Homo sapiens: one gene and its partners. The protein of the gene in region 1 purifies or fractionates together with the protein of each later gene. This does not show direct contact. Each region holds a gene or a part of one and is shown on either strand. Other genes may lie near its edges. The genes, in order: SERPINI2, LEPR and PDIA5.

Region 1 (3,655 bases):
TAGGTTGTTTCCAACATTTCTCTTAAAAAAAATGCACCTCATCTGTAACGAGACCAAGAAAAAACATTAATTTGTTCATTTTAAAAGCTTATTTGTTACTAGTTTTAAAAGGAAAATGGAAAAAAAAGGATTTAAATAATCAGAGGCCTTTGTGCTTGTGAATGATGATTGTTTTGTTGGAGTCTCCTCATGGACTGTCTGGGATAGTGTCTATCCCTCTTACTGGGATACTGTGCTTTTGTGCTGGCATCCCATTTGAAAGAATTGTTGCTTGGCTGGTGTGGTGGCTCACACATGTAATCTCAGCACTTTGGGAGGCTGAGGCAGGTGGATCACTTGAGGTCAGGAGTTCGAGACCAGGCTGGAAAAATACAAAAATTTGCAAGGCATGGTGGCATGTGCCTATAGTCTCAGCTACTTGAGAGGCTAAGGCAGGAGAAGTGCTTGAACCCAAGAGGCAGAGGTTGCAGTGAGCTGAGATCGTGCCACTGCACTCCAGCCAGGGCAAAAGAACAGACTCCTTCTCCAAAAAAAAAAAAAAAAAAAAAAAAAAAAAGTTGTTGCTCATCTCCTCAGCTATCTCATGCTCTCAGTTTCTATAGTTGTTTTAATTTTCAGCTTTTGGATTACTCTGAGATACTGTGTTCTAAATACAGATTTTTGATTTGGGAATTTAGTTGCTACAACTATAATTTCAGTGTATTTTTCTTATCACAGAGTAGCAGTATTTAGAAATTTGCTTTCCTGAAAATACTATTTACAAGATTTTATTTGCTTCATTTTAAATAAAGACAATTTTATACAGAAAAGACGTTGGTAATAGTGAAGTGAAGTTAATTGTAAGAATTTTTCTTTGCAAATAGTGCACACTGAAGCCAATGTATTCCAGATTTAGTCTTGATTAATTTCAGCAAATCCCAATATACCACTCCCAGAAACGTTTAAACCACATGCTATAGCTTTGAAAAAGTAATACAATATTTGTGAAGATACATAAATTAGAGTCTCTGAAAACTTAAATTACTTTAAATGGATACATGATATAGAGAAACACAGAAGTTTTAACAGGTGTGAATTGTGAACATGATAAAGTAATAGTAATAACGCACTATCAAAAATATAGAAAGGATATCAGCCACTGTTTCATGTGCTTAATATATATTCTCTCATTTAATATTTATAATTACTTTGTTAAGTAAACAACCTTGTAATAAACCTGAGAAAACTGAGGCAAAGAAAGGTTAAATAATTTGCTCAGTGCTAATTCCTAAAATAATTCAGTGAGGATTAAGAATATAAGAGCAATATATTCTCACTAATATATTAATAAGAATATTAATTCTCATATATTATGTAAGGCTCTCAGTGTCCTCAGTTCTCCTTCTTTACTTCATTGTCAAAACATCTGCTCTGAATTTACCTCCTCCATTTTGCTGAACATCTGTTAATACTCCCTTTTGCTTTACCTCTGATAATGCTGATGACGAATCAAAGGCTAAATTCAATGTGCTTCTTTTTTCCACAGGGTTTTGAAAAGAGAACTGGGCATGAATTCCTGTCCCAGTTCTGCAACTAAATGACCTTGTGATTTGGCACAAGTCATGTCACTTGTGAAGCTTCTTAATCTCTCTGGGCCTCAGATTCCTCACTGTAAAAAGAAAAGTTGAGGTTAGGTAATTTATTTGGACCTTTTGGCTGAAATAATCTATAATTCTACGACTACGTTTGTTTTCATCTTTGGATCTCCCATATGCACACAAAATTGGCTTTTAGACTTTTACTAGCAGAAGAGAACATGCACTGAATTTTAGAACATTTTCTGGAGGTCTGGTACAATCAAATCAAGAGCCACATTCACCCATGACCTGTGGGTTATCCATGGCTCTATTTTAGAAAATGAAATAAACTTGTTGTCATTACTTATTAGGAGATATATAATTTTTGATCTGTGCTAAAAATGTCATTAATCTAGAAACGAAATAAAATTTATAGGGCAGATAATGTTATATTCTTCTCCAAACTTGTACTACTTAGTGACATTTTTTTCATTGACTTCTGAGTTCAACAGTTTATCAAAGGGCAGCTGTTTGTCACATAGACTTAGACCTTAAGTACATGACATAAATCTATTTGCTTTGACAAATGATTTGGAACTACTTTTTCTCCCTTTCTCTCTTTTTTTATTCCTTTAAAGATGTTCATGTATTTCAGATTTCTGAAAATTAGTTTCAGATTCTGTCACTTCATTTCTGACCTTAATTAATTCTTTTGGAAAAGCTCTCGTGTCTTTACTCAGAAAGCCTTTTCTGTAGCCTCCCAGCTATTGAGATATTTGTTTCAGGCTTCAGATAGCAATAAATGGTTACATCTGAAATCATTGTACAAATAAGTAAAATGGCTTAACTTTCTTCCCTTCCTTATGTAAGGAATTTCAGGGTTATAAAGAATTACTGAAATTCTTCAGATCTAATCATATGGAAGTAAGTTTTTTTTATATCTGAAATTGTTTATACCTGTATCTATATACCAGTGAACAGAGAATCCTGGAGTTTGAAATATAATGCAGTATACTTCATAGAGCCTCCTGTGAGGCTGTGAGAACGCCAGGCCAAAAAGGCAAGTAGGGACTGAAATGTAGCCTCTGTAACCCAGCTGGACAAGATGAGAGGCCATGGAGCTGCCCAGCCCCCAGAGAGGGAACTATTTTTATTTGCACAAAGATGACCTATGGGCTGCTAGCTTTCTGATTTAAAAAAAAAAATGTATTTACACAAGCTTAGGTACACACACACACACATCCTCCTTATTTCCAGTAGAAATCTAGTAGTAAGTCCCTCTTAGTAATACCCGGTTTTCTTGAATAAAGATTAATTGAATATATCAATTTTAGGTTATGAAAGTGGCATTTGCAGTATTTAACTGAAAATATAATGAAGGCCCAGAAAGAACCTATTTGAAATAGAGTTACAAGACTTAATGATTGAGTTCTAAGATTAAGCCAGAAGGAAATGAAAACTGTTGGTACACTTTTGCAATGAACAGGAAGCTATTGAACCTAATATCAGGGTAGAGTTCTCTCATACGCATATATAGCTTCCAGACAACACTACAGTCAGAACAGTCCAAAAATAAATAATAGGCCGAAAGTGATTCTTTTAGTTGACCCTGACTGACTTATTTTGGCTAGTGGTTAGAGTTAAAATGGTTAAAGATTTTTATTGTTGATGTCGACAGCCAAAGTATATAAATTCATGAACTTGTAGAAATAGGCAATTCTGATTCTTACGCATCTCTAGAGATGATTACAGAGGTTGCCTTGTAAAATTTAAAACCTGTACAGGTGCAGTTGCTTATAAGAGAACAATTTTTTCTTCAGCTGAAATAAAAGTAATATTGAAAAGGATTGCTCATCACTGTCATGCCCCCATCAGCATTCATTAGCATTCCCTTTTCATAGGTATCACATGCTCACGTTATGCAAATAAGATTCTAAACATAAATTTCAATAACTAAAAATGCGCTAAATGTGACTATCAAGAGGGACTTTCCTTCAGCTTCTATAAATGCATATTCTTTTTTTTGACAAATTTCAAATTTGCATGGACATTCTTTTTTCTATATAAAAGATGATTTCTCTACAAAATGCATATTCTAC
Region 2 (3,655 bases), on another chromosome or scaffold:
CTGAGATTAAAAAATTGTAATTTGTTTTTACTTCAAATTATCTTTTCTGAAAATCAATCAATTCTGAAAAATTTGTATTTTAACTCTTGAATGAAATGCAAGAAAATGTAGTTTATATATATTTTAATTTGACTTAGTTGACTAGAGGAGAATGTGAAAGATTATAAAAGTTTCGTATCATTTGGCTAAAGATTAATGTTTTGGAAAAAAGAGGTAAAAACAGATTATAAGAGATAATATGAATGGTTTTTAGAACTGAGTGAGATTACTTAGGAAATAAATACTTATGGTTAATAAAGGGTAATGTGTTCTAATGAGAAGTAATTTGTGCTTGTTTATTTTTACTCTTCTATGTTTTAAAAAGAATTCAAGGCATCGTCTTATAGTGGTCCCTTTCTTTCTAAAATCATTTTATCTAAAATGATACAACCCTTGATTATATAATAGATTTTTATTTTTAAAAATATCCCATAGTAGTAGTCAAGTAAATATATACTGCTGTTAAACACTGTGTCCCAATTTATATTTTTATTTGTAGTGGAGACTTTCAATTTGTATAACATGCTCATTTATTCTTAAAATATAAATTTTCAACTAGAAAAATAAATCCCTTCTCTCAAATACTGTGATCTGAAGTCTATTCCTAATGCTGCCAGTCTCTTCTTATGTAGCGTTAGGAAAAAAATGTGGCAATTCGTACATTTCTCAAATAGCTGCCTTCATCCTACCTAATATGAGTATTTTAAAATCAGTAGAATTGTTCATGATATGAAATTTTACTTTTATAATCTGTCTTTACATTCTTTTCATGGCATTTTCACATTAGAAAAGGTGTTTATGGAAAACTATTATGTTAAGCCCCATGCCTTGTTTCTCTTATTAACATTTACAGAATAACTATGAAACTACATTTACTTGGGTGAGTTTCTTAACTTCCCTAAGCCTCAATTTCCTTGTCTGTAAAACAGAGAGAATAATAGGACTTACAGTGTTTCTGCGAGAGTTAATGACATATTTCATCTAATTATAATCACATGGTATAATTTCTCCTTGTAAATATTCAATATATGGTTTTTGCTGTCATGATAATGATGCCAACTTTTCGATTTCAAGTGTACTAGTACTGTGCTTCTACTTTGTTCTTATTTTCTACCCCCAGATGACCCCTCACTCCTCATTTTCATTTTTGCCCACGCACCACCATTTATTCACACACACACACACACACACATTCATGATTGTAATTTTGAGAAGACAAGAAAAAGAAGTGGTATAGAAAATAGAAAATGACAGAAGAATATAGATTTTTTAGCTTCTTCTAACTTCCTCACTCCCATCTCTTTGGAAAGAGTAATTGCTACTTCAGCTATTTAAATATAGTATTCAGAGCAAACATTGGCCCAAGAGGTTATTTCAAAGAAGAGGAAAAAGACTTTATGTCAAGTTTGTCCAACCCATGGCCTGGGGCCCCCATGTGGACTAGGATAGCTTTGAATGCAGCCCAACACAAATTTATAAACTGTCTGAAAACATTAGGAGATTTTTTTTGCAACTGGTTTTTTTTTTTTTTTTTGATTCATCAGCTATCGTTAGTATATTTTATGTGTGGCCCAAGACAGTTCTTCTTCCAGTGTGGCCTAGGGAAGCCAAAAGATTGGACACCCCTGCTTTATGGGTTCTGAGGTGGAGTGTTGGCTAGGACTCACTTATAAAATTTTTTTTAAATTTTCTTTTCTGAGAAAATGAGGAATATACATGGTTATATAATTCACATACATATCTGAAATTGGTATTATATTAACTTATATTAATTTGAACTAGAAAATTATATTCACCACTCATTTGTGGTGAAATTTAATTCTTTCTTCAAAGTGTGAGGAATTTGCCTTCCTTGCCATCTCAGGAATGCTCCATGACTACTTTCATCTATATTTTAAATATTCTATCACTAATACATAATGTTTGTTTAATTTTCAAATTATTGTAGGTTCTGTCTCTAACTGGATCATTTTCTTCTTTTTAGAGTATTTATTTCATTTGCATCCCTGCTTAGTGTCTAATGAAATATTTAATAAGAGTTACTGTCAGTTTCTGTGGAAAGATATAGAATTGGGAAAAATTAAAAAATGCCTTTCTAATAAGAATGTCTTTTTTTAGATGGAGTGAAATTGTCTGTATTTTATTTATTTTAATTTAATTTAATTTAATTTTATTTTGTTTTTGAGACAGTCTCCCTCTGTCGCCCAGGCTGCAGTGCAGTGGTACCATCTCCGTTCACTGCAACCTCCGCCTCCCCAGTTCAAGCGATTCTCCTGCCTCAGCCTCCCTAGTAGCCAGGACTACAGATGTGCATTTGTAGAGACAGGGTTTCCCCATGTTGCCCAGGCTGGTCTGGAACTCCTGGGCTCAAGTGATCAGCCCGCCTCAGCCTCCCAAAGTGCTGGGATTACAGGCATGAGCCACCGCACCGGGCCTTCTGCCTGTCTTTTAAACTTGGGGTCCCCAGTCCCTGGGCCACGGACCGGTACCTGTCTGTGGCCTCTTAGGAACCCGGCCACAAAGCGGGAGGTGAGAGAGCAGCATTACCACCTGCGCTCCACCTCCTGTCAGATCAGCGCAGCATTAGATTCTTAGAGGAGCAGAACCCTATTGTGAACTGGGCATGCGCTCCTCATGAGAATCTAATGCCTGGTGATCTGAAGTGGAACAGTTTCATCCCGAAATCCTGAACCATCTCCCATCCCCCATTAGTGGAAAAATTGTCTTCCATGAAACCGGTCCCTGGTGCCAAAAAGGTTGGGGACTGCTGTTTTAAACAACAAATCAGAATTCTCAGATATCTTCTTGTTGCTTTTATTAATGTATACTAATTGACTATTTTTGTATCTTTTAAAGGAGCAGCCTTTACTGTTCTGATATTCCATCTATTCATCCCATATCTGAGCCCAAAGATTGCTATTTGCAGAGTGATGGTTTTTATGAATGCATTTTCCAGCCAATCTTCCTATTATCTGGCTACACAATGTGGATTAGGATCAATCACTCTCTAGGTTCACTTGACTCTCCACCAACATGTGTCCTTCCTGATTCTGTGGGTATGTCAAGCTGCGTTGTGTCTTCATTTGTGTTAGCAGATTTGTATGCAGATTGATGCAGATTTAATGTTATATTTTGCCATTTTCTGATCACATTAGATTTTGAAAAAAAAATTGTTCCTGTTTACAGTGGTATTGAGAAAATCAGCCTTAGGAAGTTTTACAGTTTTGAATTCATTTCAAATTATTTATAGCAGACTTTTTTTAGCAATAGGAATATTTTCTGCACACTATTAGATGAAATACATGGGTCATTATGAATGAATTTTAGTAGTGTTTTTCTAAATAAGGCATTATTTTATGTTTTTGTTCCAATGTAGTTATGAAAACATGTAATATTTGTAATCCAAACGTTTAATTTGAATATTCTGAGGTTCTCAATAATCTGAGTACTCATAACTCAAGCCTTTAATTTGTGAGGCTATGTAGGGCACAGAAGCATTTAAAATAGCTAAATTGAAGTGGAGGAAATAGACAACAATGACATACATTATATTTTAAACATTCTTTTCAAAAAACTTTTGATTTCAAAGATATTAAGAGAGCCCTTGGAAAATGTG
Region 3 (3,655 bases), about 44 Mb from region 1:
GTTGAGGGGATGGGCAGGGAACAAGTGAGCAGATTACTCCAGCTGCTTTGAGTACAATTGAGAAAATAAAACAGGATATTGGGAGAGGGCATGATAGCATGAGGCGCCTTTGGGATAGGTGGTCAGGGAGGGTCTCCTAGAAGGTGAAATTTGAGTGGAAGCCTGAGTGGCTGATGTAAAGAGGGGTAAGCCGCATACAGACCTGGGGGAAGATGTTGGTATGTATGCTCCAGGTGGGTAGGAAAGAACATGTTCCAGGGCCCTGGGGTAGAAATGAACTTGGTGTGTTGGGAGAAGAGGAGAGCCAGAGGCTGCAGTAGAAGTGACCTGAGTTGAGGTTGAAGGTAGGCAGGACTCAGCTTGTGTGGGGTCTGTAGCCATAATAAGTTTGGATTTGAATCTACCTGTGATAGGAAGCCACTGTAAAGTTTTAAGCAAAGGGATCTGATCTGATTGATGTTTTGAAAATATACCCCGGCTGCCCTTAAATATCAGAAGACAGCAATATCACAGTCACAAAGCAACACAAAATTAAATGCCATAGAAATATCTGAATAAGAAGTATTTTGTAATTAGAAGAGAGACAGATCATTCGATGGGGCTACAGTGAACTGGGAAGACTCAAAGCAGGGGCCAGAACAAAGGTAGGATTGCGAGGGGTTGTCCAGGGTGGATGTTGCCTATCCATCAGAGCAGGGGCTGGGAGGAAGAGGTGGCAGGTGGTGATGGCCCTGGGGGATTTGTCACTTCGTCTTCCAGAGCTACAATTTCTGGCACTGTAAAACGGACCTACTGAGCTGTGTCATGTGTCTGGTGGGGCTGCTGCGATAGAGTGTGGAAGCCCAGCACAGACAGCGAGTGCTTTCCTTATAGAGGTGGGGAATTCTGGGAGCTGAGGCCAAAGCCCAGGAGACAGCCATGTGTGCGAGCTGCGGAAACTGGAGGTCTCCTGGTATTGACCCCAGCTGGCTTCCCATGCCTGTGGCAGACGTTGCAAGTTGGTCACAGCTCCTCTTCCCAGTGAGCGAGTTCTCAGACTCAGCCTCTGTCTCAGGCCCACCGCTGATGGAAGCTGGCAGGTGGAATGAAACCCACTTGCCACCCTGGCAGGGCAGTGGCATCAAAGGCCTGGAGCCTGATAAAGGGATGAAGTAAACCTCCCTACCAGCACACAGTGAATTCTCATCTTCAGGAGTCCTGCCACATCAACAGGGTCACTTTAGAAAGCAACAGTGATTCTCAGTGAATGGCAATGGCTGGCTTTTCTTTGTCTTCCCTCCCCTGATTCCTACTCCAGTCCCACTGTCCATCTTGACCATGGGCCCTGCCAGCAGCTGGCCTAACAGCACCATCCATATCATGGAGGGTATGGGGAGAGTGGTCAAGGGAGCCTCTCTTTCCTGCCTCTCCCACCTCCCTGGAGGCCACCCAGGGCCTCATGCCTGCATTTCCCGAGGCCTCCCAGTGTGTCCTCCACTATGTGCTGCTGGGCTGAGTCAGTCTGTCTCAGGGCAGTGGACCTTTGGGGACTTTGCATGGACCACTCACATCTCTCCAGAGCAGGTTGAACTCTCGGGCGATAGACTCACCGCCACAGGAGAGTCTCTGAGCTTCCTTCTCCTGCAGTTTGTTCATGCAGGGTGAGCCCCCTCACTCTGCCCCAGTCAGGGGAGGTCAGCCTGAAAGCAGGAGAGTGGGGGGCTCACCTTGGACAGGTGCAGGGAGCAGCAGCTTGGGGTTGCCCCCGGGGCAGGGAGATCCCTTTAAGAGCTGTAGAACTTTTTCATCCTGACCGTGGCCCCAAAGGATGGTTTACTCCACTCTATTTTAGTGAGAAGCAAAAAAATAATTTTTTAATCTTAATATACCTCATATTAAGTCAGTAGAACCTTCTGCAGATTATTCCATTTACTCCTGACATGTGGGCCAGTGTGGAAAGACATCTAAGCCTGGGCCCCTGTGCATCAGCTCTCCGTGTTCTTCCGCTTTGCCTCCCATTGGACAGTGATTGGCTTGGAGTCCGGTGGTCTCCTTTGTCCTGGGCTCCTAACCCCAGTTCTGTGAGCAAGTTCAGGTAGTCCAGGATCCCTCTGGAATTGTACATACATGTGGAGTATATGCATCAGTGTGGGGAAGGGGAGGAGAGGCTTTTGTGACAATCTCAAGAATGTCAGTGCCTGGGAGGCACAGACTCCTGCCCCAGCTCTCCCTGGTCCCTCTTGGAGTTCTTCCTCTCACTGCTGAGGTGGGGGTCGCTGCCTAGAGGGAGCGGCCTGCCTGCTGTCCCCACTGGATCGCGGGCTGCACTTGTCCCATTGGGAGCAGGCTCAGGGAAATACAAATAGCACTGCGTGCTTTTATGTTTCAGGTGCATCCTATTAAATGGGCTTTTGCGGTTGCCCCTGGGAATCTGCATGTAATCGGTGTGTAAAATTGTTTCTGAGGGGAAAACAAACAGCCAACTTACCAAAACAACCCTTTTGTGACTGGATTATTTAGGTAACACATGGCTCATGATGATGCTAAATGTTCATTTCTGGAAAGTGATATTCTTGTCATTCAAAATAATGATGACCTTGATACCTCTACAGCTTATGATGGGGGGATCCCAAGTGGGGTCTAGTCAGACCGTGAACTCCCAAAGTCATCTAACCCTATGTGCATTTTTCTGGAAGAAGGGTTTACCACTTTGATCATGATCTCCACAATGTCTGACTGCAGGGGACATTAAGAATATCTGCTGTGGAGAACAAGGCCAGGAACAGCCAGGCTGTCTTGCCCAGCCCAGGGGCAGCCTCTGGGGGGGCCGAGCTCAGCAGTCCCAGAGGAGCCCTTAGGAGCACTTTTGGGGCTATGTGCCTTGCTCAGCCCTGGCAGCGGAATTCTGCACTGCTGAATTGAGCATGGGGACGTCCTCATTTCTCTGAGGCTGCCCCTGCCCTCCTGACTGGGTCCTCTGTCCTCTGTCTCTAACTTGCCCACATGTGTCCTTTCATCTGCCACCTCCAGGAGGTCTTCTCAAGCCCCTGGTCAACCCAGGAGTTGTCTACTAATTATTTAATTAGGTCTCTTCATTGCTGACCAGTAAATATTTATCATGTATCTATTAAATGGTGATCCTTTTGCTTCATGGGGAGGTACAAGGTAAAAAAAAACCTCAGGTCCCACCTTTAGAGAGTCACCATCTGGGGCTGGGCATGGTGGCTCACACCTGTAATCTCAGCACTTTGGGAGGCCAAGGTGGGTGGATCACAGGTCAGGAGATCGAGACCATCCTGGCTAACACAGTGAAACCCCATCTCTACTAAAAATACAAAAAATTAGCTGGGCGTGGTGGCACATGCCTGTAGTCCCAGCTACTCGGGAGGCTGAGGCAGGGGAATCACTTGAACCCAGGAGGCGGAGGTTGCAGTGAGCTGACATCGTGTGCCACTGTACTCCAGCCTGGGTGACAGAGCGAGACTCCATCTCAAAAAAAAAAAAAAAAAAGAGAGGCACTGTCTGGTACCTAGAGCCCAGCATGATGAGTGTGTAGTGTGGGTACAATATGTAATAGGGCTACAAGCAGCTGCCGGCTCCCCTGGGGCTGCCAGGGCAGGTGGAGTGCTCTTCCTCTGGTTCATCCCTTGAAGGCATCATGTGTGCCACTCTATTC

The links.
Region 2: the proteins of SERPINI2 (region 1) and LEPR purify together in Homo sapiens (affinity purification with mass spectrometry; one large-scale study listed by BioGRID and IntAct). This does not show direct contact.
Region 3: the proteins of SERPINI2 (region 1) and PDIA5 purify together in Homo sapiens (affinity purification with mass spectrometry; one large-scale study listed by BioGRID and IntAct). This does not show direct contact.

The regions. Positions count from the first base shown.
Region 1 is NC_000003.12:167,467,452-167,471,106, reverse strand, and holds part of SERPINI2 (serpin I2 precursor), read left to right. Parts: exon of another isoform or gene 1-42; intron 43-1,420; exon of another isoform or gene 1,421-1,536; intron 1,537-3,655.
Region 2 is NC_000001.11:65,602,143-65,605,797, forward strand, and holds part of LEPR (leptin receptor isoform 1 precursor), read left to right. Parts: intron 1-2,895; coding exon 2,896-3,095; intron 3,096-3,655. UniProt on the Homo sapiens protein: Receptor for hormone LEP/leptin. On ligand binding, mediates LEP central and peripheral effects through the activation of different signaling pathways such as JAK2/STAT3 and MAPK cascade/FOS.
Region 3 is NC_000003.12:123,139,916-123,143,570, forward strand, and holds part of PDIA5 (protein disulfide-isomerase A5 precursor), read left to right. Parts: intron 1-3,655.